3 linked regions of the Homo sapiens genome follow. The protein of the gene in region 2 interacts with the protein of the main gene of each other region in a biochemical or structural test. Each region holds a gene or a part of one and is shown on either strand. Other genes may lie near its edges. The genes, in order: INPP5D, SLAMF1 and SH2D1B.

What was found.
Region 1: the proteins of SLAMF1 (region 2) and INPP5D form a complex in vitro, tested with the Homo sapiens proteins (one study listed by BioGRID).
Region 3: the proteins of SLAMF1 (region 2) and SH2D1B interact in a test that uses a peptide from one of them, tested with the Homo sapiens proteins (2 studies listed by BioGRID).

The regions. Positions count from the first base shown.
Region 1 is NC_000002.12:233,054,447-233,065,636, reverse strand, and holds the start of INPP5D (phosphatidylinositol 3,4,5-trisphosphate 5-phosphatase 1), read right to left. Parts: upstream 5,296-11,190; 5' UTR 5,159-5,295; coding exon 5,025-5,158; intron 1-5,024. UniProt on the Homo sapiens protein: Phosphatidylinositol (PtdIns) phosphatase that specifically hydrolyzes the 5-phosphate of phosphatidylinositol-3,4,5-trisphosphate (PtdIns(3,4,5)P3) to produce PtdIns(3,4)P2, thereby negatively regulating the PI3K (phosphoinositide 3-kinase) pathways.
Region 2 is NC_000001.11:160,606,747-160,617,194, reverse strand, and holds the end of SLAMF1 (signaling lymphocytic activation molecule isoform b precursor), read left to right. Parts: intron 1-4,614; coding exon 4,615-4,707; exon of another isoform or gene 4,708-4,708; intron 4,709-6,396; coding exon 6,397-6,447; 3' UTR 6,448-9,089; downstream 9,090-10,448.
Region 3 is NC_000001.11:162,406,992-162,417,889, forward strand, and holds the start of SH2D1B (SH2 domain-containing protein 1B), read right to left. Parts: upstream 5,146-10,898; 5' UTR 5,026-5,145; coding exon 4,892-5,025; intron 1-4,891. UniProt on the Homo sapiens protein: Cytoplasmic adapter regulating receptors of the signaling lymphocytic activation molecule (SLAM) family such as CD84, SLAMF1, LY9 and CD244. In SLAM signaling seems to cooperate with SH2D1A/SAP.

The sequences.
Region 1 (11,190 bases), on a different chromosome or scaffold from region 2:
AGAAAGAAAGAAAGAAAGAAAGAAAGAAAGAAAGAAAGAAAGAAAGAAAGAAAGAAGGAAAGAAAGAAAGAAAAAGGCTGGGTGCAGTGGTTCATGCCTGTAATCTCAGCACTTTGGGAGGCTAAAGAGGCCAGATCACCTGAGGATAACACAAAAAAAAAATTAGCCCGGTGTGGTGGCAGGCACCTGTAATCCCAGCTGCTTGGAGGGCTGAAGTAGGAGAATTGCTTAATCCTGGGAGGCGGAGGTTGCAGTGAACCAAGATTGCACCACTGCACTCCAGCCTTGGCGACAGAGCAAGACTCTGTCAAAAAAAAAAAAAAAAAAAACCCAAGAAGTGCTGATTGTGTTCATGAATTTATGAATTTAACCTACCAGGTAGACAAACATGCAAAGCATCAAAGCTGGAGCCTAATCTCTGGACCCGAAAGGACTTTTCACGGGGGCTGAGCGTAGGCACAGAAAACCTGGAGACTCCATTTTAACATGCTTGCTCTGCGTCACTTCACATGGAAGATACAGTTAGTGAGTGAAATACATAGGCCTTCCAGGGCACATACCCCTTCCTGGTCTTGCATGCAGAGAGAAAACCCGGCACAGTCAGCCTTGGATAAAGCCCCTTGGCCGGCTTTCTGGTGTGAGCCAGATGTCAGTAGCTCTGGCTACGACCTGGGCCAGCATTTTTTCCCACTGACTGTCAATATCAGATATGAAAAATAGTGCCTTATTGCATTTGCACAAAAACAATTAACAGTGTCTATTTTACTGAAGCTTCGAAAGGGAGACTTAGCCACCCGCTCACACCACAGCTTTCCAACTCTGTTGGACTCTCTGAGATTAGGAGTTTCGCCCTCCCAAGTCCCTTCTCTGCGGCTCCATCACGAGAAGTTCCCTCTCCAGGCTCTGCCCCGCCCCACACAGGCCACCTTATGGTCTCTGTTTCTCGCTTCCAGGAAGATCATGCATGCAATCCTGGCCCTTTTATTTGTTAGTCCTGTAAACTAGGCCTGTTCCATAAACCGCTCTGCACCTCGGTTTCCCCATCTGTAAAGTGGAGATAATAAGACCTCCTTTGAAGGTCTTCGTGGACATCAAATGAGTCAATATAAGCCTAGAATGGTGCCTGGCACAGAGCTCTTTGGAAGTTGCCTGCTGTTATTAGGCGGAGCAGGTTGGTAACAACCTTCTGCTGGTGAAGCCAGGTCTGTCCGGTGCACTGTCTACACTGCCCCTGGGAAGGGGTAAGCAAGACCCTGCCATGGTGCCTGGGTGGCCTGTGGAAGGCCACATGTGGAGGGAAACCAAAACCACACTGTCAGCTGTGGCCAGACCAGGCACTGGGTTCTGAGCCAAAGGCAGCCACGTGCCTTCGCCTCCCCCATGAGGGAAGCCCCCTCTCTCTGGAGTGGTTGGCTGGGAACGCCGCCCTCCTGCGCAACTCCAGGCTGGATGGCAGACAGCTGAGCCGGCCACTCTAGGCCTGATCCCGGGCCCCAGCTGCTCCTGCAGAGAGGGCAGCCTATATACTGACATTGGGCCTTTGATCAGCTTTGCCTGTGCAGATTGCACAAGGGGATGCCGGCTCGGCCAACCCATGGACCCTTGCATTGACTGACCCCATTCCCAAGGCATCTCTTCTTTGCAGCATAAGGCCCTGCCAGGTGTGCTGGCCCCTGCGTGGCAGGAGAGGGCATGAGCCTGACAGCTCTTAATGTCTCCCACCCACGATGTACCCAACGTCCCCTGGAGGCACCCACAGACTCCCCCCGGAGCAGGGCCAACTCTGCCGGGGGATTTGAGTGGGGACCAGGTGGGGACAACATAGGCTCTACTTAGAAGAGCCCCTGGCTGAAAGACGGCAGAGTTGGACCCAAACCAGGCAGCCACCTGCTGGAGTCTTCCCACTGCAACTGTCTGTGCCCCGAGATGGAGCCCAGGCTCCCTGTCAAGCAGGGCTTTCCAAGCTGCTGAGGTGAGATCAAAGCTTTCCTGCCCAGTGGTAGGTGACGGGGCTGACCTCTCTCGAGGAAATGCAGGGTTTGCTGGGTGTGCGCAGAATGTGCACTCCTAAGTCACATGGGTGGCACTGAACTGTAGCCCTGTCTTTTGATGTCCAACCCCCGCTCAAGTCCATTTACATAGTCAAATCCTGTTCTCTTTCCTGAGCACAAAGGCCCCTCCCTGGTGAGGCTGCTCTCAGTTCCTGAGACTCCAGGCACACTTGCCCAAACCATCAGGTGGAGACTCCGGCCGTTGTCCCCTTGCCCACCAGAGGGGGCCTGGGAGGGAGTGCTGCTGGGGCCCAGGCAGGATGAGGTCAGGGCACCTGGGTGATCTGAGGGGCCATGGGGCAGGTATACTTTTCCCATGGACTTTGCTAGGGCAGGAGGGTGAGTGTGTGGCTTCCTTCTGCAGTCACTTCTAGAGCAGGGTGGCTCCAGGCTTCCAGGGCTAGGGGGGCAAAGCCTGCTACTTCTGCAGCCGCAGAAAACCCGGCTGCCCTGCACACCCCTCAGCCTGGGACTGTCTGCCTCTGCCGTCTCCGTCAGGCCACGGCGACTCTGCAGGGAACACAGAAAACTAAGGGTGGTAGGGTTTGTTTTTCAAGAAGTTCAATCTCTTTGCTTTAAATGACTGGCTTTTTTTTTTTTAATGCCCTTCCTGCCTCTTTTGGTGTCAAAGGCTGCTTTCTTTCAAGAAATGAGGTGTTGGAAGATGACAGTTTGTTATCATTCATTTAATTAGTTTTTAGTTTTAAAATCTCCGTAATTGGCAAAATCCAGGGTGGCAGCCATATGAAGCCTGCAGATGTATGGAAAGTCTGCAGGTCCATAGCAACCCACGGCCTACAGTGGAGCCTGACCCTGCAGGAAGGGAAGCTTCCCACCCTGAGCAGAGGAGAAAGGGAAACACTGAGCCCAGGGTTTGTCTGGCCAAGGGGTGGGACTCCTGGTGTTTGCAGCCCAGCAGCCTCAGGATAGGAGGCTGACGAGGCTTCGGCTGAGAGGATAGTGGACATCTGTAGGCACCACAGGTCCCTCTCTAAGGAGCAGACACTGCACACCCATCATGACTCTGAGAGAACTCAGTGCAGACAAGGGTTCAGAGAGAAGAGGTAGAGGAAGGAATACGAGAACTGGCCTGGATCCCAGCAGTTTTGACCCCAGCCAGCATGGTGGACAAAGGCCTCAGGCTCTCTGCCCTCTGTCTACCTCCTGAAAAGCCAGGGCTGTTGCACCAGAGCTTCTCCAAGGCCTCTCCAGCTCTGACTCTGGCTCAGGCTAATCCTAGACGTTAAGATGCTCACGGCTCGGAGTCAGAGAGACCCACGCCCCATGTCTGTAACCTGAGCAACCACAAAGCAAGCCCTGGTCAAAGGGCTGTGTTGAAGGTTAATGAGATGGGGCCCTGGAAGCCCTCGGCTCAGCCAACACCAAACAGCCAGGACAAGATCCCACTGGGCCAGGAGAGAAATCCAAGTAACCCACATGGGCCAGGTGGAGTCAGACTGGGCTTGTGAGAGGCCTAAGAGAATCTTCCTGCTCCTTCTAAGGCCCCGGCAGCAGCAGGTCCCCACTGGGGAAGTCCAGGCAGCCTGGGCCTGCGTTCCTTCCCCTGAGGCATGAGAGAGGGGACACAGGAAACCAGTCTTTGGAGGTGGGGCTGCAGACTGTCAGCACAGGCCAGCGACCAGCTGCGAGCCTGGCTTGGTTTCCAGTGCCCCAGCTGACCCTGTAAACACTGTGGCTCCCCTTGCTTCTTTCTCCAGCCCTGCAAGGCTACATGCCTGCCCCGCTGGACTGGGAGCAGGAGAGGTTGGGCCACAGGCTGCTGGTCTCAGCTGCAGCCTCTGGGGGCAGATGGCCGTGGCTTTGACTGTTGTCACTCACTTAACCTGCCAGGGCCTCAGATTTCTCATCTGCAAAGTGGGGCTTTTAACAGGACCTTCACTTTAGGTTGTGGTGAGGATGAAATGGGCTAACAAATGCTTAGCACGACAGGTCCCAGCTGTGAGTCAGTATTCAAAACAGGTCTGGGTTCATCACCCAATTCCCCTCCTGCCTGGAGAAGCACAAGGCCCTGGCTGCTCGGGGGAACATTTCTGCCAGCCCAGGGATGCTACTTGAGATGTTCAGGTGGACACACATTTCCCTGACTACACTCCGGCACTGCCTGAGGCCCCGGCAAAATGATTAGACCAAGAGCTGCAGGGCAAGGCCCCCCTATGATTAGACCGAGAGCTGCAGGGCAAGGGCCTCCTTCAGACGCTGGACAGGAAGGGGGTTTTAGAAAGGAACCTTCAGCAAGTGGCTGGTTCCTCCATTGTTAGCACAGCTGGTACATTCAGTAACATCCCCAACCGGGCAGTGGGAGGAGTTGATGGTGACAGAGACCCAAATTGAGGGGGTGGGGGGTGGGCAGCGGTCACAGCCAAGTGCTCAGGAGAGAGAAGAGGCTGCTCGCTGGTGGTAATGGTGACTTCCTCTGCTCTCAGGCCCCTGAAAGCAGCTTCTGACTGAATGGAAAGTCCTTTCTTGATTAAACTCACCCCATATTCTTGGCTCGCCAAACAACAGCTTCCTCCAGGGGCCCGAAGCCTGGGTGCTCCAGGAAGGGTCCCCCTTGCCACCTTTGCTCTTCTCAGGGTTTCTGAGCTGGGCATCTTTGAGCTGATCTCTAACACACCCACCTCCACAGAGCCCTGAGCTTCCTCCTGGCTCCAAAAGCCCAAACTCCCTTCTCTCGGTCCCCAGACTCCAAGGAAGCCACAAGGTCCATACAGCTCATGGGAAGCTGGGGTGTAACATCAGGCCTCAGAGTGGTTCTGACAGCTCCAAGGCTGCAAAACCTGCCATGAGACCAGCTCTCTGAACTCCAAGGACAAGGTCCATGACAGGGTGGCGGGGAAGTGTGCATGTCAGATCACTCTGTCCTGTGACATAAGAACAACCCATCTCAAAGCTGGGCCCCCTCTAAGCCCCTCTGTCATATCTGTGCCCGGGGAGGGAGCAGGTTGTACTCACAGCACGCAGAGCGCGTATGCCCGGGAGATGGACTCGCTGGCACGCACGAGGAAGCTCCCGTCCTTGCCTGTCCTGGAAAGCAGCTCCTCCGCCTTGGAGCGGGTGATGTTGCCATGGTTCCAGCAGGGGACCATGGTGGGCGTGGGCCTCCTCGGCCGGGCCGGCAGGCACCCCCAGGACCCACACACCACCGAGGGGAGCGGAGGCCCCTCCACTGCAACCTGCCGCCCGTTGCCTCTTGGTGGCCTCGGCTGCTGCCACCAGCTTAACTGACTGACTTCCTGTTTCAGGCGCTCAGTGAGGGAAAGGAAACTGAGCTGCGGAGAACTTCCTCATTACAGAAACCAAGCAAGAGAGAGAGAGAGAAAGAGAGAGAGGGGGGGGCCCTGGCCGTCCACCGTCCCCTACACCCTGCCACGGCTGCCGCGGCTCTCTTGCCAGCCCTCTCCTTCCTGGCAACTGGTCGCAGCGTACAATTGAAGTGTCCAGTGGCAGCTGAAGTCCCCCTGGGTGGAATGACCGGCTCTGGAGACGTCAGGAGAGTTGTGGCCACTTCTGAAGAAGCATGGCCTAGCAGGCATGGGTGGGCCAGAGAAGTGGTTCTTCTGCGGCCGTGCTGACACCCACGTGGGATGCCATGCCCTAGACAGGCCCCCGAGCCTTCTGCTCTCCCTCAGGGCTTTTCAGCACCCACCCTGAACCTCCAAAACACCCAAGGGGGCACAGCTTCTCAACTGGGACTACGGCCTGCCCAGGACAGAGCAAACTTGAGGGGGAGGGGACAGTCGAGCCCCACCCCTCCCCTTTAGAGACTCCCAGCGGCCTGGGTGCTGGGAGACCTTGGCTGCCACCAGCCGAGGGCGCCAAGGTCCAAGTGATGGCTCTGTGACCCCATTACCCTCATTCCCAGGGGCGGGTGGGTGCTGCACGGGCAGCACAGCTCTGATCCCTGCAGTCCAGCTTGGAGACACACAAAGGGAGCTTGGAGGGGATGTGGGCCGTTTACAGCGGGAACATAGGCTGGGTTTTTCCCTGGGCTTCTCCAGGATGCTGGGGAAACAAGCTCGGAGAGGAGAACCCCAAAGCCCCACAGGGCAGGCTGGCCGCCTGGCCAAGGACAACACTGGGTGCTGAGTCCTGCGTCTCAGCAGTCGGGGTGGCCGGTCGGACTGCACCGCCTCCAAGACTGGGCATGGCCACATATGCCCACCACTCAAAGAGGAGCTGCCTCTCCAGGGACCGCCATCCAGGACCAGTCATTTCTGAGGGCTCTGCGGTGGACACCCATCCCTCAGCCCCCAGACCTGGGCACCTTCCGTCCTTGGGTCCGGCCCACCAAGGCCGAAGGGGCACGTGTTGACCCGCTGCACAAAGAGTGCCCCCACCATCCCACATCCAGGCCTTGGCCTCCAGGACATGACAACAGACTCCCTCCAGGAAGGGGCACCAGCCAGGCAGCGCCACCACATTCAAGCTGTGGGAACCTGGTCAAGTTTCTTCTCTCTCTCGGCCTTGGTTTCTTCTTGTCTAACTTGAAGGACGTAGCTCGTAAAAGAGCTCACATGTGCCCAGGGGCTCAACATGTGTCACACTGATGGTTGTCCCAGAACAGGGCCCCCAGCACCTCCCCGCTGAGCAACACACATGGCAGGCGAGTCTGTAGGGCAGACAAAGCACTCCCAGTCAAGGACCTCTGGCCAGGCTGGGAGCCAGGCGTGGGGATAGAGTGGTGATGGGAACTGGCCTCCATGCTCCGGCCCTTCCGCAGCACGCCACCTCTGCAGCAGCCCAGTGTGGAGGCCTCTCATTCCCCACCCACGCCTCCACTCAGCACCTGTCCACCCCCTCCTTATGGGGTCATCTCCTATGCTCCCATTGTGTACCTTCACACCCTTCTCACTTCCCTGCTGGCCTCCACCAACATCCATGAAGTCCTGGACCACGCCACCAGGAGGATCCATTTGCAATACTGGTCCCTTTACACCTCCACCCACTCATCTCTAGAGACCCCTACCATGCCAAGACTGCCCTACTTAGAGAGCTTCCCCCAAACCCCCAGCCCCCCACCTCTCACACCTCTATTCCCACGGTCCTTGCCATTCCACAGAGTGAGATCCCCTGGCACACACGCCACACGGGCACTCTTCCCTCATTTTTAAGGCCCATCCCAACTTTGCTTCCTTTTCCACCCAATTGCCTGATCTATCCAGCATGGTCAGCTGGCTTGTCCCCCACCCTTCTGCCCTCCACATTCAGGAAATCCCAGTATCTAGATCAGAGCTGCCCTTTTGGTGGGTGGATTTTTTTTTTTTGTAGGTCTCCAGTCAATATAAATAATTTTAACGTATTACAAAATTCACAAACTCATGTGAGGGATAGTGATTTATCAATGAAGACTTCAAATAATGGCTAGAGAGTGGCCAGGCACAGTGGCTAACACCTGTAATCCCAGCACTTTGGGAGGCTGAGGGGAGTGGATCACCTGAGGTCAGGAGTTTGAGACCAGCCTGGCCAACATGGTGAAACCCTGTCTCTACTAAAAAAAAAAAAAAAAAAAATCAGGTGGGTGTGGTACGTGCCTATAATCGCAGCTACAGCTACTTTGGAGGCTGAGCAGGATAATCACTTGAACCCAGGAGGCGAAGATTGCAGTGAGTCGAGATCGTGCCACTGCACTCCAGCCTGGGTGATAGAGCGACACAGTAAAAAAAAAAAAAAATTACTGTTCCAAATTTTATAGCATAAAGGTAGAACCACACATCTTCCAGCCATATTCTCTTGAATGTGTTAGGCCATAATCACTGCATTCCTACCTTGAGATCCCATTTGATGATGATTGCACCCTGGCCCTCCACATACAAGAGCAGTCTCACTCTCCAGGGATGTCTGCCTGCATCTGGCTTGGCAGGATCAATGTGGAGAGCTCAGCATCACCACATGGATGGGAGGTGGGAGATGATGCTGATGGGAAGAGCCCGTGGGTGTATCGGTGCTGTGGAGCAATGTCCTCGAAAGACGTTGGAGGAGGCAGCTGCCTGATAGTGGACAGGAGCCTCCAGAAGGGATAAGGGACTGCCAGCTGCTGCTGGCAGGGGTGATGAGGGCCTAGACCACCTGCCACTATCCTTGCTGTCCTCAATGCTCGGGGCCACTCAAAGGAGAAACCTGCTCCCCAGGCTGTGCCCAGGAGTCACACCCAGCCATAGGGCCCCAGAGCGATTGCATAGTGTGAGTCTATGCATTCCTTGGAGCATCTGGTCAACCTCACCCATGGGGCAGAGGCTTGGAAAGCAGCTGAGGGGAAGAAGTGGGGTCAGACTCACTCATGTGATCCTGGGTCCAGACTGGGGCACCTGCCCAAAGGCACTGCCAGCCCTGGCAAGCCCCAGGCCCCATCAGGGGACTTGAACAATTTCTGGGAAAGCTGGGCAGTGAGAAGCATCAGGGTGGTCTGGCAGGCACCTGGTCATGGGCACTCAGCCAACTCTAGAAGCTCCGGGAAGAACAGACAGGCCTCAGTGTTGAAGAGGAGGGCTGACATGGCAGGGCCAAGGCATTGGAGCAATTCTGCTTTGGCAACCTTAAGTGAGGGCGGGTCACAGGAAGGTTTGAGTCTCAGGACAGGGTCAGGGCAGGCTGGGAGAGAGGGACAATGGAGACACCAAGCTTCTTGTCCAGGGGTCCTTCCACCGTGGACAAGAAACAGAAAGAATTTCAGGGTCTGAGAAGGGACTGAGCCAGGAGAGGGGAGGCAGAGGTCAATATATACTGTATATATATATGTGTGTGTGTGTGTGTATATATATATATATATATACACACATACACACACACATTACATCATATATATAGTGTGTATATATATACACACACATTATATATATATAATATATATTTACTATACAATGTTAACAGATATACAATATATCTAAGCATTTGTCTCTGTACTTCCCTTCCCCTCCTGTGTTCATCGAAGCCCTTTACTATGCCCCAGGGCTCCCACTCCCCCCAGCCTGGGTGGATAGATAGATATCACTCATGGCTTGGGGTGCAGGGGCTGAAAGTGTTCACTCACTGAGTGCTAAAAGCAAAGGGAGCAGTGATGGTTAATTTTATGTCAACTTGGCTGGGCCTCAGGACCCAGATATTTGGTCAACATTATTCTGGATGTCTCTCTGAAAGTATTTTTTAGATGACATGAACATTTAAATCAGTAGACTTTGAGTAAAGCAATTCCTGTGTGTAGGCCTCATCCAATAAGCTGAAGGTCTTAATAGAAAAAGACTGACTTCCTCCAAAGAGTAAATTTGCCAGTAGATTGCCTATGGACTCGAGCCGCAGCATCAACTCTTCCCGGGGTCTCCAGCCTGCCAGCCCACTCTACAGACTTTGCACTTGCCAGCCTTGACCATCCTATGAGCCAATTCCATATCTATCTATCTATCTATCTATCTATCTATCTATCTATCTATCTATCTATCCATACATCTGTGTATCTCTCTAGCCATCCACCTATCTATCCACCTATCTAGCCATCTATCTATCTATCCATCTATTTATCTATCTAGCCATCTATCTAGCCATCCATCTATCTATCCATCTAGCCACTATCTATCTAGTCATCTATGTATCTAGCCATCCATCTATCTATCCAGCCATTTATCTAGCTATCTAGCTAACCATCCATCCATCTATCTATCTAGCCATCTACCTATCCATCTATCTAGTCACTATCTATCTAGCCATCTATCTATCTATCTGGCCATCCATCTGTCTAGCCATCTGTCTAACTATTACCTATCTATCTATTGATCTATAAATCTATCGATCTGCCTATCTATTTAGTCATCTATCTATCTAGTCATCTATTTATCCATATATCTATCTAGCCATCTGTCTATGTATCTAGCCATCTGTCTGTCTATCTATCTAGCCATCTATCTATTTAGCCATCTATCTATCTATCTATCTATCCATCCATCTATGTAGCTATCCATCCATCTATCTAGCCATCTATCTATCCATCCATGTAGCCATCCATCTATCTATTTAGCCATCTATCTATCTATCTAGCCATCTATCTCCCTATCTATCTAGCCATCTATCTCCCTATCTATCTAATCTATCTACTTATCTATCTGCTTCTCTGAAGAACCCTGATTAATAGAAGGGCAAATACTTGACCGTGAAGTTAGAAAGTTGCTCACTGGCTGGCGTAATCAATAGTGAACTTCCCTCATCTTCAGACCTGATAATAAGACATCCTTTGCTGGAGAAGGGAGCAGCCACTCACAGGGAGCCTCCTGGGATCAAGCACCACTGTTCCCCTCCCAAGGAGCCCAGGGCAGGTGGGTCAGCCCCCAGGCTCCTGCTTCCTGCCACTGAGGAAGACCAGCCGGGAAAACCAGTCAAAAGCAGGAGCCAGCACCTTATTCACAGTTTGTTAAGAAGGATGGATGCTCTCCTGTGTCCTGAGAATCTACCCTGCCCACATCGGCCCCTCTCAAATCAAAGGCCAAGGTCGCTTACTGAGATGGTGGAAGAGGAAGTCAAGTCCCAGCCCCTGACTAGGATGAAGGGAGACCGTCCCACTGGAGACGTCTGGCAGAGCTGGAGCACTCCCAAACTAGCAGATTATGATCCCTTATTGTCTGCCAGAAAAGAATTTCTTCCCTCCCAGCTCTCTCTCTCCCCACCCAGCCTTCTCTCTCTCTCTCTCTCTCTCTCTCTCTCTCTCTCTCTCTCTCTCTCTCTTCTCTCTCTCTCTCTGTCCATCCCTCTCTCTCCACAGTTGTTTTTGGAGCTCTGTCAAGATACCAGGCTCCACCAGCCTGCCTTTCCTTTTCCAGTTCCATTTCTGCTACCGGCATCTTGACGTTTCCAGATCCACCCAGGCCCCTGCAGGCACAAATTTCATTCAGATTTGCAGAGCTAGTGGCCACAGTCCTCTGAATTCCTGACAGATTTTGCCAGAGACCATCCATCTATGTGGCCCCACGGCTTCCTGGGGCTTGGTGCATCCCCAACAATGGGAAGGCAACATCTCAAATCATGGCACCCTCCACCCCTTCCCTGTTCTGCTCCTCTGATAAGCTCCATTTTAGTGCTGCAAATCAGACTCTGAATTAGACACACAGGAACAAGGCTGGGATCCAAATCTCAGCTT
Region 2 (10,448 bases):
GTCTCAATTGCTATGCCTTTTTTTTTTAAATTTTTTTTTGAGACAGAGTTTCACTCTGTTGCCTAGGCTGGGGTGCAGTGGCGTGATCTTGTCTTACTGCAACCTCCGCCTCCTGGGTTCAAGCCATTCTCCTGTCTCGGCCTCCCAAGCAGCTGGGATTACAGGTACGCACCACCACACCTGGCTCATTGTTGTATTTTTAGTAGAGACAGTATTTCACCATGTTGGCCAGGGTGGTCTCGAACTCCTGATCTCAGGAGATCTGCCCGCCTCAGCATCCCAAAGTGCTGGGATTACAGGCATGAGCCACCACTCCTGGCCTCAATTGCTATGCATTCTAATGAAAACTTGGTATTAACAGTCTAATTTTAGTCCTACTGTTGGATGTGTCTTATTATGCTTTTATTCCACATCTCTGTAATTATTAAGGAAGTTGAACAACTTTTCATATGTTTATTGGCCATATTAAAATTCTTTCTTAAAGTGCCCATTTAATCTCTTGCCCATTTCCCTTTGAGGTTTAGTCTTTCTTTTATGGACTAGTATATGCTTTTCATATATTTTGGATATGTGCCCTTTGGCAGATATGTTAGCAAATACCTTCACCCATCTGTAGCTTGCCTTTGGAATTTCTCAGAGATACCTACTGATAAAGAGAAGGTCTTAATTTTGTTGTAGACCAATTTAGTCTAGTCCTTTTTAAGCATTACTGGATTTTATTTGCTAATATTTTGTTAAGAGTTTGGTTTTCCACTTATGTTTCTGAGTGAAATTGGCCTGTAATTCTCTTGTATAATGCCTTTTTTTTTTTAAGAAGGCACTGCAGTGGCTGGTATATAGCATTCTTGTGAATATATCTAACTGGGATACAAGTTGAGGTAGAAATATTTCAAATGTCCTTAAAAAAATAAGTAACAGAGTTCTTCCTGGACTCTTCTTTAATCACAAGCCTCAGATTGATCCCAAAATGACACACAGCTACTCTACCTAATACCCACATCACGGTAAAGTTGGTCGCTCTCCTGTTAAAAATTCAGACTTTAAGAACTGGAAGGGACCTGGGTAGTCATGCCCAACCAGTGGGGTTTTGATATAAAGATTTATGCTAATTCACATAAGGAGTTGGGGTATATGTTAGTTTCCTAGGGATGCCTTAACAAATTACTGGAAACTTGGTGGCTTAAAACAACAGAAATTTATTCTCTAACAGTTCTGGAGGTCAGAAGTCCAAAATCAAGGAGGCACATCCTCAGGGCCACACTCCATCTGGAGGCTTTAGGAGAAAATCCTCTTTGCCTCTTCCAGCATCTGGTGGCTCCAGGCTCTCCGTGGCATTTGTTGGCTTGTAGTTGTGTATCTGCAATTTTTGCCTTCATCTTCACATGACCTCCCTCTCTGTGTCTTCTTCTTTTCCATCTCTTATAAGGACAGTCATCATCAGACTTCGGACTTATTCTAATCCAGGATGACCTTATTTTGAAATCCTTATCTTGACATCTGTGAAGACCTTTATTCAAATAAAGTCACATTTTGACATTCTGCCTGGACATATCTTTTGGGGCCACAGTTCAACCCACCACAGGGTGCATTTCCTTTTTGTTATTCTCTGCGATATTTGGGTAGGATGTCTTATTTCTCCCCTTAAATATTTGCTAGTAGAGCAAATTGCTAGTAAAGCTATCTGAGACTGGGGTTTCTTTGGTGGAAATTTTTTTAAGTTATATTTTTATTATTAAATTTTCTCCTCTACATATTAGTGAACAACTTTTTTCAGTCTTTTTAGTGGCTACCCTAGAAATTATAAAATACAACTTTGACTTACCAAAGTCTAAGGTTTACTTCCCTCCTGCATAATACTTCAAGTCCACAATAATTTCACCTCTTGATTTAAGTGACCGTTTTGTCATTATTTGAATTTCATATATATTTTAAACACACAAGACATAATTATTATTGTTTTATATATATAAATATATACTTAGACTTACCCACATTTTCACAATTTTCTTTGTTCATATTTGCGATGTCTTTATTATATCAATATAAAGACTGTAATAATGTAGACAATTATTTAAAAACTAACAATGCCTTTATTCTTATTTTTAATGGCTATAAAATAATCTTATAAAGAATATAATAACATGAAAATCACTAAACAAGTGTTTACTGTGTGCTAGGAACTCTTCTAGGACTTATCAGAGCTAGTATCTTGCAGAATTAATTCCAGCGGCCACCATTCACAAAAATTATGTGAAAATAATGCCTCTGGAGTTGCTTGTAAATGATGCTCCCTAAAGATGTACAAATCAGTGGTCCTAACAGAAGATAATAAGATACAAAAATATACTAACTTATTATATTTATGTTTAAAATAATTCCCTATGCCTGGATAAAAATCCTGAAGTGAACATTTAAGCACACACAGAGTCTTAATAGGACTATGGGTGACTTCTTTTACATATTTTTCTCCTTTCTAAAACTTCTGAATTAATGTTAAAAATGTAAGTTATTTGCCTCCTTCTGCCTCTAGGTCAGGTTATGCTAAAGTTCTCCCAAACAGGAAGACCAGCAGAGGTTGCATCTGTTGATAAAGGTCTCTCTTCTTTTTTTTTTTTTTTTGGTGATGCGGAGTCTCACTCTGTCGCCAGGCTAGAGTGCTGTGGCGCCATCTCAGCTCACTGCAACCTCCAGCTCCCTGGTTCAAGGGATTCTCCTGCCTCCGCCTCCTGAGTAGCTGGGATTACGGGCATGCACCATCATTCCTGGCTAATTTTTGTATTTTTAGTAGAGATGGGGTTTCACTATGTTGGCCAGGATGGTCTCGATCTCCTGACCTCGTGATCCACCCACCTCAGCCTCCCAAAGTGCTGGGATTACAGGCGTGAGCCACCACGCCCGGCCAAAGGTCTCTTAATAAACTGTTTTGATAGCCTCTTTATCTCATCACTGCAAGAAATTCTTTCTTAAACTCAAAATTTCTTCAAAATGTATTTAAGAATTGTATGGGATCTTGAAAGCCATCTATCTGAACCACCCAATTACTGCTTGAATTATCTGCTACAACATTACTTCCAAAGTGTTGCCTAGCTCCTTTTTACTGAAATATAGTTTGTGAACAAGCAGCATCAGCATCACCTGGGACTTTATTAGAAATGCAGAATCAGGCCCTGCTCCAGATCTTCCGAAATAGAATCAACCCTTTAACAAGATCCCCAAGTAATTCATATGCATAATAAAAGTCAGCAGCACTGGTCTAGACCATGCCCAAGCACTTATAACTATAGGAGCTCATTGCCTGCCAAGGCAATTCATCCCACATTTGAACATCTTTTACCATTAGAAAGATCTTCATTATATTGAATCAAAATATTTTCCCCAAATCCTAATCTTGGTTTAAACCTGAGATACTTTATAGGCAAATTGAATTCCTTTTCTATATGGCAATTCATCAAATATATGAAGAGAAAAATTATGTCCCATCCCTTTTTCCTCCAATAAACTTTCCTAATTCCTTAACCCTTCCATCACATGACAAAATTCCAAGTTTTCTCGCATTAAAACACATGTGGTGTGGCTTCAAGTCTGGCTCTATACCCAGGGAGAGTGGACAGCAGCATTATCCCATAACCAGTGTCCCCAAAATGTGTTGAATTAATGACTTCCCTATTGTAAGTGATGGCATCCGCATCTTACAAGGATGTGGTCTCAATTTATTTTGAGGTCTTTGTCCAGGAATTGTGGATTTTAATTCGTTCAAAGTAACATCAACAAATATCAGCTGAAGAGTTTATTTTTATGTGTCCAATACTGTTCTGTGGGGAGTACAAAAATATATGGCTTATTTCTCAAGGAATGTATAGACTGGAGAAACAACACATAAATATATCAGAATGTTTTAAATATAGCATAGAGTGCCATAAAGTGTAAATTAGACTTTAAATACCTGAGGAATTTAAGTAAGGGATAGGTCATTATAAGTTGAGTGACCAAAAAAGAATAGTGATAGAAAGGACATGCACCTTAAGTTAAAAGAGCTTAAGGCAGGGGACTCCCGGCTTTGACACTTCTTGCTTGTACACATTAGGAAAACATTTGGTCTTTCTGAGCTGTAGCTTCATCATCGGTGAAGTGTGAGTAACAACAGTATTTAACACAGAGTGGTTGTGAGGCAAATGAGAAGACATATGTGAGGAGGAGGAAGAGTAGGAATGGCAGTGTGGGATGCAAGAATTCTGCATGTAGCCGGTGATATGAGTGAGACGGACTAAATTCTGTTGCTATTCTGTCCCCTCCAGCTGCCCCTGTAAGAGCCACACCAATTTCAGTTTCTTGTGAGGAAGACATTTAAAACATTTGAGAAGCACTGACAATGGATGAGGCTGCCTTGGGAGGTTGTGCACCCCAAGACGCCACTTGGGGAGTCCAAGCAAAGCCTGGGGAATTGAGTTCCAGAGAATTTGGGGGAGAATTCCCACCTGAGAAGGAGGTTGGACCAAATGACTGGAAGGAACTTTCTGCCTCAAGTCTTCTTGAGTCTGTGCTTCTCTATCGGAGAGTTGGGTGAGAACTAGCTCTCTCTGTTCAGCTAATCTGCTTTCTTTGCTTCTCTTGTAGCCTCTTCAGAAGAAACTTGACTCCTTCCCAGCTCAGGACCCTTGCACCACCATATATGTTGCTGCCACAGAGCCTGTCCCAGAGTCTGTCCAGGTGAGGCATCTCTCTGCCTACTCTCCGTAGAGAGGGAATACATGAAGGAGGGGAAAATGAGGAAGTTTTTTTTTTTTAAGGTGGGAAGAGGGAGAGGATCAGGGAAAATAGCTATTGGGCACTAGGCTTCATACCTAGGTGACAAAATACTGTGTATAACAAATCCTCATGACACAAGTTTACCTATGTAACAAACCAGCACATGTACGCCTGAACTTAAAATAAAAGTAAAAAAAAAAAAATTAAAACAAAAACAAATTAAATGAAACAGATTGATGAGTCCTGGACTGGGGAAGGGAGGCCACAGCATGCAGGCAAAAAGGAGTCTCTGTGGCTTTGGTTTTCCAGTTTCCATGAAGCCCCCAATACCTGCTCACACGGGGCCACTGCTAACCCCCTGCTGGCCAGTGTTTCCCTGAGAGTTGTCCAAGGACCACATCAGAATCAGCCAGCGTACTTGTTAAAAATAAAGATTCCTAGGGACTTCCACCTAGGATTCTGTTAAATGAAAATGTCTATGGAGAGTAGCCATAGACCTACGTATTTAAAAAACCCACACCCCAGGTAATTCTGATACACACTCAAGTTTAAGAACAGCAGCTGGAGTCCAGGAGTTCTCAACTCCAGCTACAAAACAGAATCACCAGGGAAGCATTGTAAAAATGCTCATGCCTAGACTCTGTGCAGCCCCATTTAATCAGAATATTTAGGGGTGGAGATCTGCATAGGTGTTAAGCCTAGAAGAGAATATGGGGTGCAGCTCAAAATGATACTTGCATATTCTACCCTATTGCAAGATCAGCAGGGACTAAGTTTACTTCGGACAGGAATCTTTCCTTTACTGAATGAATAGAAATAAATTCTGGGCTGAAATCTTTGCTCCATTTGGGCTCTTTCAGAAGAGAGCCCAGGATGATAGAGGCACAAAGGTCACACAAATGCCTGCATCCACCTTATTTTTCAAAGCTCCTACCGCACACACACTCATCCAGAAATGCCTGGGCAGGTGCCCTATATTTCAAGATGAAACCAATCTTCAACTTGAGGTCCATTCTCACTTCACTGTCATATCTAAGAAGGAAGTAAAAATATAAACCTGACTTCAAAGCTTCAAAAAAATACATAGATTTTTAATGAAGTTTACTTAAGGACAAAAACAGTATGCTATAGTTAACATTTTATGGCAAAACCCTTAAATTCTATTTTCTTTGTTTCTTTGACATGAGAGATCTTTGCGCATAACCCTCTTCTCCCCTTCCTCTCTCCTGCCAATACCACTTTTCTCTTCTCCCTTTGAGTCCCACTAGACTTTTTAAAAACTCAATAATTTACAACTCTCTTGGCTTCCCAGATTGTGACCCATATGTAACAGCAAAACAAATGGTTTTCCTTACAAGGGGATGGAAGGGGAGAGGGCAAAGAGGGAGACAGGGCACTGAGTGCTGGTCCTCAGATCATGCTCCCCATAATAGCATGCTTATGCTTGGAAGGGAGCTGTGGCCCTTGTTGCAGGTGGAGAAGCAGTGTGGGAACCCAAGTGCTGTCCCAGCAAGGCCCTGTCTGTGACAGACCCTGCACAAGCCATGATCTCTAAGACCCTTTCCTTTTCCTCAGCAGTGCTGTTTTCATTTGCATTCTGTGAAGTGAGTATCCAGTCCCTCTACTCACAGACTTCTGCTTTGTCCCCAGGAAACAAATTCCATCACAGTCTATGCTAGTGTGACACTTCCAGAGAGCTGACACCAGAGACCAACAAAGGGACTTTCTGAAGGAAAATGGAAAAACCAAAATGAACACTGAACTTGGCCACAGGCCCCAAGTTTCCTCTGGCAGACATGCTGCACGTCTGTACCCTTCTCAGATCAACTCCCTGGTGATGTTTCTTCCACATACATCTGTGAAATGAACAAGGAAGTGAGGCTTCCCAAGAATTTAGCTTGCTGTGCAGTGGCTGCAGGCGCAGAACAGAGCGTTACTTGATAACAGCGTTCCATCTTTGTGTTGTAGCAGATGAAATGGACAGTAATGTGAGTTCAGACTTTGGGCATCTTGCTCTTGGCTGGAACTGGATAATAAAAATCAGACTGAAAGCCAGGACATCTGAGTACCTATCTCACACACTGGACCACCAGTCACAAAGTCTGGAAAAGTTTACATTTTGGCTATCTTTACTTTGTTCTGGGAGCTGATCATGATAACCTGCAGACCTGATCAAGCCTCTGTGCCTCAGTTTCTCTCTCAGGATAAAGAGTGAATAGAGGCTGAAGGGTGAATTTCTTATTATACATAAAACACTCTGATATTATTGTATAAAGGAAGCTAAGAATATTATTTTATTTGCAAAACCCAGAAGCTAAAAAGTCAATAAACAGAAAGAATGATTTTGAGATCTCTGAGTTTTGAACAGTGGACTGGAAACCATGTAAGAGCCTTAAAAGTACAGTTCTGTGCAAATGGCATTCAGTTTTAAAGAAAAACGTAGCAAATGTTTGATGGTGCTGTTACAAAGGAGCTTGGAATACTCAGAGGAACTTGTCCCATGGTGATTTTTCACTTCTCAAAATGATGTTTAAATCCCAGTTCTCTGTTGATTCCCTTGAACAACAAACCTGGAACCTCAGCTAAGACTCTCTGTGACCAGATTCTGAACCTCTTATATCCAGGGCTTCAAGGGGTATTGCAGGTCAAGGTCTTTCCTAGGCACTTTCTACTCCCTGCATACCTCTCCTCACACTAAATTTATCCTCTAGTAGAAAATTAAGTTATTTTGGTCTAACAGCTTCAAATCTTTGAATGCTCAATAACTTATTTTGCAAGCTGCAGGCAGAAAGAGACTTTTTAAGTAAAGTCCTTTGTTTTTTCCTATTCTCTGCTTTTAGACAGGCTGTCCTCAATTTAAGCCCTGCTTTTTCTTATTGTTTCTTATATAAACTTGGTAAGTACTGTAAGAAACAGCCACTATCATACCATTGCATAATAAGGAGCACCAACTTCCCAGCTCAAAACTCAGGTCCTTATTGCCTTGTATCTTACCTCCTCTATGAGGTCAATTCACATTGTAAGCCTGTTGCTTAGTGCATCTCGTTTCCTGGTACCAGCTTCTTTAATAGAGTTCTTAGTTGCAATCAACAGAAGCTGGCTTTGGCTTTTTTATGTAGAAAAGGAACCTATTGAAAAGATACTGATTGGTTCCAATAACTGCTAGAAGTTTCTGCAAAACCATGCTTTGAAAGTGAGCAGGAAAAGAAGAGACTAGGCTGTGGCTGGGAGCACAGCCAAAATTACAAAACCAGCCCAGGGATGATGATCCTGTTCATGCACAGCCACTGTCCCCAGCACTAGGCACAGACTCTACCACTGCCTCACTGTCTCTGCTGGACTTGGAAACTTGATATTACTGTTACTGCTGCACTGTCTGCCATGAAAATGAATTCTCCAGGGTCCCTTCTTCATCCTTTCATCTCTAGCTTATAATTCAAAGTCTGGGATTGAGTGGCCAATCCTAGGTCACATGTCCATGTCCTATCTCCAAGGGGGGCTGGGAATTGAATATCTGGCATTTTCCACTTTCACTTCTTATGAATTAAGGAATTCTACAAATAATAGAAGTGGGATTCAGGTGGTAGGCAGACAAAAAAGCCTCACAATTATCCACTACGCCACCCTTGTATAACCTTACCCTCATTCACTGTCTACTCTCAAAACTGTGGAGCTACTAATGAAGATTTGTAAACCCGGGCTTATGAGCACCCATTCCTTTACTACAACTCAGATTGCTCTAGAAGCTCAGTTCCCAGCACTTGGATTTTTCCAGTAGCTGAATTCTACCTGAAGGAAGGGCAGAAACAAAGGGTGAAGAAGAGGCTATCACTTCCAAGTATCCTGCACCCCTGGGCTCAAGACCTCACTGGGGAGGGAGTCTTTTGGGCCACCCACCAAACAGCACTGGCATTATGCCTCTCACCCTAGACCATGGTTACACGTGGTAAAACAACCCCTTCTGGTGATACATTCACAACTCTCTAGTTTCCCCCAAATGGCACTATGGGGAGCGGGAGCTTGCCTTTTCCTCAGACTTAAAACAATAAGTTTTCCCCGTGTTTCCCCTCTAATGCTGTTTTCTTTTGACCAAGCATGTCTGAATTCTAGAGAAGTCAGGAGGAACACACCCATTCTCGGTTTGAAGGGACTGATGTTCTGAAGTACAACTGGGCACAGTCCCAGGCTCTTCAGGACGCTTCCTCCATTCACACAGCGGGGATGTGATTGTTACAGCGGGTGGTGTGTGCTGGCTGAGAAGCCACTGTGAATTGATTCTTCTTCTGAAGTTTATGTTTCTACTTTTTGGAAATGAATAAATTACAGCCAGTCCATCAAGGAAATTGCAATTTTGTCTTGTGTTTCCTAAAGGATTTATAACACAGTAATATGGCATGATGTGTTTCCTGGCCTTATGTCTCCATGCCATAGTTATGAAATGCTGAAGGAGGCAGATTTGATCAGATAGGATGTGAGGTTGTCCCTTTCCTGGAGGTGGACAAGGGTTAGCTTGGCATCCCCTTCACCAAAGGTCAGGAACCACCCTCCACATGGAGAACTGTGTTGAAAGGATTGTTTAATTTTTGTCACTGCCAGAGTAATTCCCTTCCCTGAACTCTGCCAAATTCCCCTTGTGGACAAAATCTAGAGCAGGGTTTCTCAACTGCCACACTATTGACATTTGGGGCTGGATAATTTTTTTGTCATGGGGCTGTCCTGTGCACTGTAGGGTGTTTAACAGCATCCCTGGCCTCGGCCCACTGGGTGTATGGCACATGCCCTGTCCTTGATTGTGACAATCAAGTGTCTCCAAACACTACCAAATGTCCCCTGCTTGGCAAAATCTCCCCCAGTTGAGAACCACTGATCTAGAGATATGCTGGCCCCCTGGTGAGCTCTGAGAAAACTAAATACGCTTCTATATACCAAGAAGTAGATCTGTCAAAGGTGGCCACCTGGTCACTTAAGCATGGCCCAAACCTGCCAGTGACACCCAAGTTTACCTAAATATTAGAATTACCCGGGAAACTTTTTAAAAAATAATGATGACCAAATCTAACCTGAAACCAAAATGAGATCTGGGTTGAGATTTATAGAACTACTTATACCACAGAAAGGATTTCGTGATGAGTTTCACACACCAGCCACAAGAGGGTGATATAGCAACACAATCCACCCAACCTTAGCATCCCCACCACTTCCTTGTATCTAAAGGATGTGGACTTAGTCACAGACTGGATGAAACTGTGTCTGGTTTCTCAGCTCTTACAGGCTGAAAGGAGATAAGGAGGCTAATGTGGATTGATGAAAGGCTCTAAAAGGTTAAGTGTACTAAGTTTATTTCACAGAAGACTTCTAGTTCTACTCAATGCTTCACTCATTCAACAAAGTTATTAAGTTCCTACTAAGTGTTTGGCTTGTCATCCAGCAGGAGATACAAAGAACACAGGCAATTGAAGTATTATAACAGGTAGATCACTATGTGATCTACTGAGAACCATTGGAAAATAAAAGAAGATGCTATTAATAATTACCCTGGGGCAGGGGATGGCAGCTAGGAGGCAGGACTAACTTGCAACTCTCACTCAGATGTGTGGAGACTCACATCATGAACTTTTGTTCCAAGAACCGCTGCAGGAACATACCAGGAAAACTGAAAGAATTCACCAGCCCTTTGAAAGAAGTGGCTTGCCACTGCAAAC
Region 3 (10,898 bases), 1.8 Mb from region 2:
AAGATCAGAAAACATTTCCTGTCCACAGTTACCACATAGCTTTCTGGTTAGTGCCATATGCTGCTAGGTCAGCTCTCTCTGTGACCTCCTTCTTTTATTTCTAACCTTCCTCACAGTATTTTCATCACTAAATATTTAGCTCTGTGAAAGTCCTGAAGTATCGGGGGAACCAGCCCCCAATATTTCAACGTAGGTTCTTTTCTATTCTCCCTAAGTGTCGGCCAGTCTAAGAAATAAAGGGAAAGAGTACAAAACAGAGAAATTTTAAAGCTGGGTGTCCAGGGGAGACCCATTTTAATGCAGCAGAGAAGAAGGGGACACTGCATATCAGAGTCCACTCCCAAGCCCTCAGGTCCCCTGCTTGGGCATTTTATAACACAGATCCAAGGTGATTACCTGAAACATATTTCAGTGAAGCTGGGGACATTGGTAAGAGAGGGAATGTAATAACATATTAGCAATTTGGCCCTAGGCAAGCTATTAAATAAGAAGCTACAGTTTATTTTCTCACAAAATAGTGATCATGTCGCCTACCGCAAAGGGATTGCAAATGACAAATAAGATAATGCATGTACCATGCTTAGCAAAATGTTTGGCTCATAGATAATACCTACATGGTAACTTTTTCTGTGTCAGTGAAGACAAGCAGGCTAACACTTGTATCATAATAGTAATTCTTGCTTTGCTTGCAAAGGGTTGTATCTTGAAGCATGAATTGGTTGATGTGACCTCTTCAGAGAAACCTTTCCTGTACCCAATGGAAAGCAGCAGCTGTGTCTCTCCCTGTCATATGACTCTGTTTCATTTTCATCATATTTTCTCCTCTTACTGAAATTAACTTCATGAGGGCAGAAACATTGCCAGTAGTATTTATCACTGTATTACCAATGCTTAGGACCACGCATGGAACATAATAAGTGCTCAGTATATGCTTGTTGAATGAATGAAGGTTCCACTTATTCTCCTAAAGTCTCAGCTCCAATATCTGGTTCTCCCCTTTTTGCTGTCAGCTCTACAGTGCCCTAATGATAGTCCAATCATCATAATTATCACATGCATCACTGTGTCTGTTTACTTCTTTATTTTCCCCACTAGGCTCTGAGTTGTGTTGAAGGCATCAACCGAGTGTCTAGCACACTGTCTGACATATGAGAGAATTCAAATATTTGTTGAACAACTAGAATTTAATAGTCCATACTTATCTGTATGATAATACATTTTTACAAGGCCCTATGAGGAGATAGCTTCAGGGGTCACTTGACCTAAGCCTTAAGCCTGAGGGTGAATGAAATGTTGTTTGCCTTTCAGTGACATGTGTAGGGAGGTGGGTGAGACCTGATCATGTGCAGGGGCTTAACAAATATTTATTTTTGCCTCTCCACTTGGTTTATTTTCATTTTTTAGCTTCTCTTTTTTTCTCTTCTTTTTTTTTTTTTTTTTGAGATCAAGTCTCGCTCTGTAACCCGGCTGGAGTGCAGTGGTGCGATCTTGGCTCACTGCAACCTCCGCCTCCTGGGTTCAAGCAATTCTCCTGCCTCAGCCTCCTGAGTAGCTGGGACTACAGGCGCATGCCACCACACCCAGCTAATTAGTTTTGTATTTTTAGTAGAGACAGAGTTTCACCATGTTGGCCAGGATGGTCTCAATCTCTTGACCTAGTGATCTGCCCGCCTCGGCCTCCCAGAGTGCTGGGAATACAGGTGTGAGCCACCACGCCTGGCCCATTTTTTAGCATCTCTTAGTGACCTTTGCTTTAGATGAATATGCAAGATGGGCTGATGCACCACAGAACAGTTGAGAATAAATATCAATTTTCAAAGAGAATCCCAATATAGGCTGGGTGCAGTGGCTCATGCCTGTAATCCCAGCACTTTGGGAGGCTGAGGTGGGTGGATCACTGGAGCCCAGGAGCTCGAAATCAGCCTGGGCAACATAGCGAGACCCCATGTCTACAAAAAATTTAAACATTAACCAGGCATGGTAGTGCGCACCTGTAGTCCCAGATACTCAGGGGGCCTGAGACAGGAGAATCTCTTGAACCCAGAAGGTTGAGGTTGCAGTGAGCCATGATCGCACCACTGCACTCCAGCCTAGGAGCTGGAGTGAGACCCTGTCTAAAAAAAAAAAAAAGAAAGAAAGGAAGGAAGAGAATCCCATATTGACCATATACCCTGAGATCCTGGCCAAGGTCTGTCCTTGCACCTTCTTGTTTTTTCCCTTCCCACTGCTTGCCCCAGCACAACTAGCTCTTCACCGTCTCCCGTCCAGAGACACAACAGTTTCTGTTGCCATCATTTCCCAGCTTCATTGTGTTCTCCACGTCAAATTGAAGTTCCTAAATTCACCAGTCTTTTCACTTCCCTGCTCAGAAACCATCCATGTTTCCCTGTTATCTATAGAACCATTCTTTTAAAACTCCATGATCTTATCCCACCCTCCTTTTCCAAAAGCTGGTTTCCAAACTACATTTTAGGAACCTTGTATGTAAATCCTTTAAAATATCCCACTTCTAGACTCCTGTTCCTACCTCCTCCCCTTCCTAAAATGCCCTCCATCCCATTTACATGTAAGCAGATCTTTTCCACTCTTTGTTTATTTTATTTGAGATGGAGAGTCTTTCTCTGTCTCTCAGGCTGGAGTATAATGGCGCGATCTCGGCTCACTGCAACCTCTGCCTCCTGGGTTCAAGCGATTCTCATGCCTCAGCCTCCCAAGTAGCTGGGATACAACTGCACCCACCATGCCTGGCTAATTTTTGTATTTTTAGTAGATGGGGGTTTCATTATGTTGGCCAGGCTGGTCTTGAACTCCTGACCTCAGTGATCAGCCCACCTCAGCCTCCCAAATTGCTAGGATTACAGGCATGAGCCACCGCGCCTGGCCAATATATATTTTTCTTTAAATGGTACTGTTGGATGTAGATATGAGAGAAATAGCCTGTATCTCCAGTACCATTTAAAGAAAGAAATATGTCCCTGTGTATTCTATTAGTAATGACAATCACTTTTGTCTATAATCAGACTTCTGAGCCTATTCCAAGGCCCATTTGTGTACTTCCTTGTAAAATCCAGTTTTAGCAAAGAACCCTACTAAGTCAGTTTGGCAAGGACCCCTCACCCTAGCTATCTGATCACTGTTGGATTCTGATCAGATTCCTCATCCTCCACCATCCCCCAGGCAACATCTGATCACCCGGGCCTGTCTTCAGCTACAATTCTGTTAGGCTGGTTTAGCCAGAATCCACTTTACCCCTGATGTTTCCTCCGAGTAATTTTCTGTCTACCGACAGCCACACTGCTCCTTGGCCATAAATTCCCACTTGTCCATGCTGGATTCAGAGTTGAGTCCAGTCTCTTTTCTGTGCCGCAAGAGCTCATTGCAGTGGTCCCTGTACCTTTGTGATGATCCTGAATAAAGTCTTCCCAACCATAATTTAACAAGTGACATTGAGTAATTTTTTTCTTTAACAAGAGACATTTGGATTTTAATTTCTGTTACAGGTATAATAAAAGGTTCAGTGGTCCCTACTTTACAAAGAGGAACATACATAAAGATAGGAGGTTTCTAGTGATTTCTGTTCAGGATTGCTTTCTAAACTGGGCATAAACAAGTTCCTTCAGCTAGGTCTCTTTGATACTGTGGCCTGGAATTTGTTTTTCTTTTTCTTTTTTTTTTTTTTTTTGAGATGGAGTTTTGCTCTTGTTGCCCAGGCTGGAGTGCAATGGCACAATCTCAGCTCACTGCAACCTCCACCACCCGGGTTCAAGTGATTCTCCTGCCTCAGCCTCCCAAATAGCTGGGATTACAAGCATACGCCACCACACCTGGCTAATTTTGTATTTTTAGTAGAGACGGGGTTTCTTCGTGTTGGTCAGGCTGGTCTCGAACTCCCGACCTCAGGTGATTCACCTGCCTCCGCTTCCCAAAGTGCTGGGATTACAGGAGTGAGCCACTGTGCCCAGCCACTCTTTTTTCTTTTTTTTGGACAGAGTCTCACTCTATTGCCCAGGCTGGAGTGCAGTGGTGCAATCTCAGCTCACTGCAGCCTCTGCCTCCTGGGTTCAAGTGATTCTCCTGTCTCAGCCTCTCAAGTAGCCAGTATTACAGGCACACGCCACCACACCAGGTTAATTTTTGTATTTTTGGTAGAGATGGGGTTTTGCCGTGTTGGCCAGGCTGGTCTCAAACTCCTGACCTCAAGTGATTCACCTGCCTCAGCCTCCCAAAGTGTTGGGATTACAGGCATGAGCCACCATGCCCAGCCTGGAATTTCATGTTTAACTTAGACTCTGGAAATTCCAAATGAGTTTTAACACAAACAAATTATTTGAGAAATTCAGGTCTCTGTTTCTTTACCTATGAAATGGTGACTGCTTATGCTTGCCTTGATAGACTACTAGGATGAAAGGAAATGACGAATATTGAAGTCCTTCACAAATCTAACAAAATGTGAAATATGATTGTATTTATAGTTTACGTATTGCAAGCAGATGCTGCAGAATAAGTGTTTCAGATTGAAATTTCTTGAAGAACCCCTAGCCTTTTCCATACCAAATAAACAGATCTCTGGAGGACAGGACCTCTGACATTTGTACCTTCTTTCCATCCCTCTGTACCCCTGTACTTCCTGCAGCCCTTCCCTTCACCACCACCATGTCCCTCCTGCTGCTGCAGAGTCTGCTTGCAGGGCCTTTACACCAGGGAGAGCAGGCAGATGGAGGAGCATGGACAGATACATTCCTCTCCTGGCAGTGTCCATTACTTCTCATTCTACTCATTGAGACTCCAAAGTCAGAGTGAAATACTGAGGGATATGAATTCCTGTACTGTGTGGCAGCCATTGCCACATTCAACATACGATGTCAGATGTGTGCAAGATGAGGCTACTCACGAGACACAGAGGCACAGGACTCCTGGTATCGACTCGCTGTCTCTTAAAAGAAAGTTGCCATCCACCCCTTCCTTGAGCAGCAAGGTCTCACAGTCTTGCTTGGTCAGACGTCCATGGTAGTAAGGCAGATCCATGGAGAACGCTCTTGTATCCCAGGAAGCCCTGTTGGCCTGAAATTCACCCCCAAGTCAAGGGACAGCTCTGAGGAGAGATGTGTAAGCAGCTGTACCTCCTGTGGAGCTACCTCTTCCTCTAGCGGTCTGTGGGACTCAGCCAGCTTCACAAGATTCAGGAAATGAGGAGGGCGGGGTGATAAAATGACCAACACTTTTCACCCTCTAAATGGCCCACATGTGACTCACAGAAGTAGGTAAAGCACATTTAAACACACAATGGAATCAGTGATGCTCATGGCTAGGGAGGCAATGCTGAAGTCAAGCTTCCTGGAACTGTGTTGCAGCCTTGTATATTACCATGGACTATCATCAACTTCTTTGGCTACTGGTATCCTTTCCAGGAAGCACACCGCTGCTTTTGCTGTAATGGTACCCATTTTCTGCTGAAGTTGCCTAGGATTGGGCTATGCTTAGCTTAGACTGGGTGCTCAAAAACCATTTGGATGCTGAGAGAATTGATATGCTCAGATACAATGGGAAAATTGAAAGGGTGGGATTTCCGTGGATCAAATGACACTAAAAATGGAAGACATTAATGGCAATAAAAAACAGTGGGACACTGTGGATGAGGACAGCCCATTCCATGGCTAAGGCTCCCAGCCACTGGTGAAAAAAGGCCATTTGAACACCCTCAAGCATTGTTCCTTTTGGAGAAAGGGCTGGTGTAGGTGGGAGGGATATCTGGGTATACTCATATATCTACAGAAAATCACTATATATATCTCAAAAATGTTATCTATGAAAATAGAACTATGTGCTAACGATTCATCTTTACTTCTCTTAACTTCTTCTTTTTTTTGTTTTCTTCATCTCCGTAGTACCTGGAGATCTTAACTTCTTCTTAACCTAGATGTTTATTTCACCTTGCTACTTTGCTTACCAGCTGTTTACTCACAGTTGGGTGTATCTTCTATGGAACTTCCTTGTAACAGATCTTTGTTCTTCCTTGGAATTCCCACTCTGCATTTGGCATAGTGCAGTTTCACTGATCAGGGAACTCGTTATCAGACAGATATGCTCTCAAATAGCAACTTTTCTTCTGTGGTTTTGGACAATTCATTATTCAATTCTCTGGAAACTATGGCAGTTGAAGACAGAGTTGTTAATAATGAAAGAAGAAATTTGGTATTTCTTGTGAATAAATTCACAATCGTGGTGTAAAGATGCTTTTTGACATAAGAGAGGAAATAACTGAAAGCATGCTCAGGCTCTTGGTCATCACAGGGGCTTCCTTGCCCTTTTTGCTGTTTCAAAATCCAACCCTCACAATAAAAGAAATGCAAATTACCTGCATGCTGAGATAACAACTCTCACCTATCATATGGGTGAAAATCAAAAGTTTGAAAGCTTATTGGGTTGGTCATGGTGAAAGAAAATAGAATATCTTGTATATCATTAGTTGGAATAAAAAATAGTTACAACTATAGTAAAAGATGGTTTGGCAATATCTTGCAAATTTATGTATGCCTTCACCATCTGATAGAACAATCTCAGTTCTAGAAATCTGTCACAAAACTACACAGGCAGAATTAGAAAATGACTTGTGAATAAGGTAGTATTTTTTAATAGAAAAAGATTACAAACAACTCAAAGACTTGTGAATAGAGGGACAGGTGAATAAACTGTGATTCATGTATACAATGGAATATTACTATAGAATAATAAAATGGGATTGAGGAAGATCTCTATATGCTGATATGCAATAATCTTCAGGATGTATTTTTAGGTGAAAGCAGCAAGATGCACAATAGTATATAGAGTATGGGGGATATAAATAAATATATACATTTATAATATTTGCTCATATTTAAAAAACAAACGAAACACCCACTGGAAGAACAAAACTAAAACTAATTAAAACTAAAAACTTCTGCCTCTAAGAGGAGAGCGGAAACATGCATAGAGGTGAGACTTCTCTCAGTAAAACTTGCTGTAGAGTTGTTGGTTTTTTGTTTTGTTTTGTTTTGAGACAGAATCTCACTCTGTTACCCAGTCTGGAGTGCAGTGGTGTGATCTCGGCTTACTGCAACCTCTGCCTCCCTGGTTCAAGCAATTCTCCCACATCAGCCTCCCAAGTAGCTGGGACTACAGGCACGTGCCACCATGACTAGCTAATTTTTGTATTTTTAGTAGAGACAGGGTTTCACCATGTGGCCCAGGCTGGTCTCAAACTCCTCACTTCAAGTGATCTGCCTGCCTCGGCCTCCCAAAGTGCTGGGATTACAGATGTGACCCACTGCGCCCAGCCTGCTGTGGAGTTTTGAATGTAGAATCATGTAATTGTTTTTTTGTTTTGTTTTGTTTTGTTTTGAGACAGAGTCTCACTCTGTCGCTCAGGCTGGAGTGCAGTGGTGCGATCTCGGCTCACTGCAAGCTCTGCCTCCTGGGTTCATGCCATTCTCTTGCCTCAGCCTCCCGAATAGCTGGGACTACAGGCCCCTGCCACCACGCCCAGCTAATTTTTTGTATTTTTAGTAGAGACGGGGTTTCACCATGTTAGTCAGGATGGTCCCAATCTCCTGACCTCGTGATCCACCCACCTCGGCCTCCCAAAGTGCTGGGATTACAGGCGTGAGCCACAGCGCCCGGCCATAATTGTTTTACACATTGAAAATAAACAAGTAAAAGGGTATTCCTAAAAGGAGGAATAAAAACTAAAATAATGTATCTAACTGAACATTACTTTGGTAATATAATCATAAAGAAAATTATTTCAACTGACTTTAGAATGTAGAATTTGAGTGAACAGTTTTAATTAAATATCTTGTACATTAAATAAACTAGCAAATAAATTTAGTGATAATTTGGTGTAATTTAAATATATTTAACTCATATTATAAGATAAACAAAAATCATACTGATATTAACATTTTAAGAACTAAGTAAGGTAAACAACTGTACCAGTTTGCTTATGTCTGAGGGGTTTCCCAGTATCTACGACTTTCAGTGTTAAAGACAGATGAGTCCTGGGAAAATTCTAGAATCAAGATTTTTTTTCAGTATAAGAAAAGAGATACACATATAAAAGCAAAGAAGTTAAATAAAATTTTTGATGCTAAATTTGAATTGGAAATATCAGCATGGATTTACAACTTGCTTTTCAACAAAAGGCCTAAAACAGGGGCCAGCAAACTTTTTCTTAGGCATTGCAGGCAATAGTCTCTGTTGCAACCATTCATCTCTGCCATTGTAGTGTAAAAGCAGCACTATGGGCTGTAGTTTGCCAATCCCTAGCTAAAACAATGAAAACTTGGTAGCAATGAGCACACCTAGGGATAAGGCTATGGTCTCTAAATACCACTTCTCCTATAAAAGAAGCAAGAACTTTTTAGAGAAATGGCTGAATTCATGCCAGGGACATATAAGTGTGTCAGTGAAGACTGAGTCATGTCAAAGGACATAAGACCCAATATGGAAAAATTTAAGTATCAAAGGAATAATGATTGTGGTTGATCAAAATACGTTGAATTTATATTATCCAGTAAAAGATCAACCTTGCCCAAATATAGATGTAGCCCTTTGTCCTAGCTCCTTGGAGAAAAGCTTTAAGCTCTTGGAATCCAGTGTATGGGACATTCAGTAGAACAAATAATGTGGTGTCTTCATAGGTTGTAAAAACTGAGTCAGATAGTTGGGTGAGAACTGCTCTAGGTTAAAAAGATGGTTATGCAGCATGAAACCAATGCTAGATGACATCTTGTTTGGATCTTGGCTTGAAAAAACCAAATACCAAAAATTTAGTGCTGGGGGAAATTTAAGTATTGATTTGATATTAGATAGTGCGTGTAGCAATGGCATTATGCTTTTGTGAATATAACTTTTAGAGATACGTATTGAAGTGTTATGTCTGATACTGGGTGATTGTGTGTGTGGTTCATTATATTAATGTCTCTTTTTGCATGTGTTGTAAAGTTTTAATAGTAAAAATATCTTTCCATTCCCATATTATTCTGATCCCATGTCACCTTTAAGAATAGCTCCACAGTACACAGGAATATCTTCAATTTCTTGCGTGGGTCCCCTTTCTCTCATCCACAGAAACAAAAACCTAGCACTATGTTTGTAGAACATGACCCTATTCTTCTGGCCATGGGTGATTTGATCAAGGATAGGCCTCCGACCTAAGATAAGTTAATCACAAACCCTTATCCAGGAGTTTAGAGAAAATGGGGAAATGAAGGAAATGAGAGAGAAAAAGAGAGAGAGATGAAAGGAAGGAAGGAAGGAAGGAAGGAAGGAAGGAAGGAAGGAAGGAAGAAAGAGAAAGAAAGAAAGAAGAGAAAGAGAAAGAAAGAAAAAGAAAAGAAAGAGAGAAAGGGAAGGAAAGAAAGAGAGAAAGAAAGAAGAAAGAGAGAGAAAGAAAGAAAAAGAAAGAAAGAAAGAAAGAAAGAGAAAGAAAGAAAGAGGGTAGGGGGCTGGGATGGGTAGGAAATGGGAATGGAAATTAATTCTCTAGGAATGGCTGTGTAACAGGTACATTTTTACACTGTATACTGGTGGCCATATCCCAGCAAGCTGTCAGGAGAAGAGAACTGGTCTGCAAAATGAGGAATGAAGTGGACACATGAAAAAAAGCAGAGTCAAAAGATAGTCTCACTTGGATTTTCCATGGGTTTTCATTCCAGGATTCAGTGATTTCTGAGGTCTGGCTACATGCTTGCCCTTGAGTTTTTTTGTCATTTTAATAGATTTCCCTTTTGTCATAAGCTAGTTGGCATTTGTTTTTGTTATTTTCTACTAAAGATGTCAAATAAATCCAGCCTTACAGATAAAATTCTGTTCTCAAGACCAAGGAAGCATGAGGCCAAATGTGAATCACAGTGTTGTTCTGAGTGAAAAGTCACGTAGAAACTGGACAGTGTGGTGTCAACCCCAGAAAGCCCAAGATCACAAGATCATCACTGACCACAGCAGCATGGCAAATGCTTGTGTTGTGCTTGTTAAAAGATGCCTGATGGAGGGCAACAGTGTAGGACCTCCCACTTCATTCCTACTGTCTTATCGTAGGAGATAGCACTTTGTCTATCTCCTTAAAGAGCTAACTCATTGCATCACCATCATTCATTGAACATACTTTATAGTGGGACCCCAATATTCTTGGAATCTCCATGACTCTAAGGGCAGAACCGCCTATGTGAGAGGCAGTGTGGTGTGGGGGCTTCAGCAAGAGGCCTTGCCACCTGTTCATTCTTGCACTGCTACAAAGAAACACCTGAGACTGGGTAATTCATAAAGAAGTTGAATTGGCTCACAGTCCACTGGTTATGCAGGAAGCATGGAAGCATCTGCTTTTGGGGACGGCTCAGAGAGCTTTTACTCATGGTGGAAGGCAAAGAGGGAGCAGGACTGAGAAGGGGGAGGTGTCACACACTTTTATACAACCAGATCTCACAATAACTCACTCACTATCACAAGAACAGCACCGAAGGGATGGTGCTAACCCATTCATAAGAACTCTGCCCTCATGATCCAATCACCTCCCACCAGGCCCCACCTCCAACAATGGGGATTACAATTCAATATGAGATTTGGTGGGGACATAGATCCAAACCATATCACCACCAGACTGCCTGGATTTGAATTCCAATTTCGCTACTCAGTGATGAATGCAAACTGCCTAGCTTTTTGTGCCTTTGTTTTTCAGAAAATGGAGACGATCATTATAATGACCATATAGAGTTGCTGAGAGGATTATATACATAATGCAGCTGGCACGTAGTTAGGGCTTGGTTTTCTATTATTGTTCATATCTGAAAGATTCCACACAAGATGGCCCCTGTTTTGTCTGGATGGTGATATGTCTGCATGGGAGGCCTTGACCTTTGGCAATC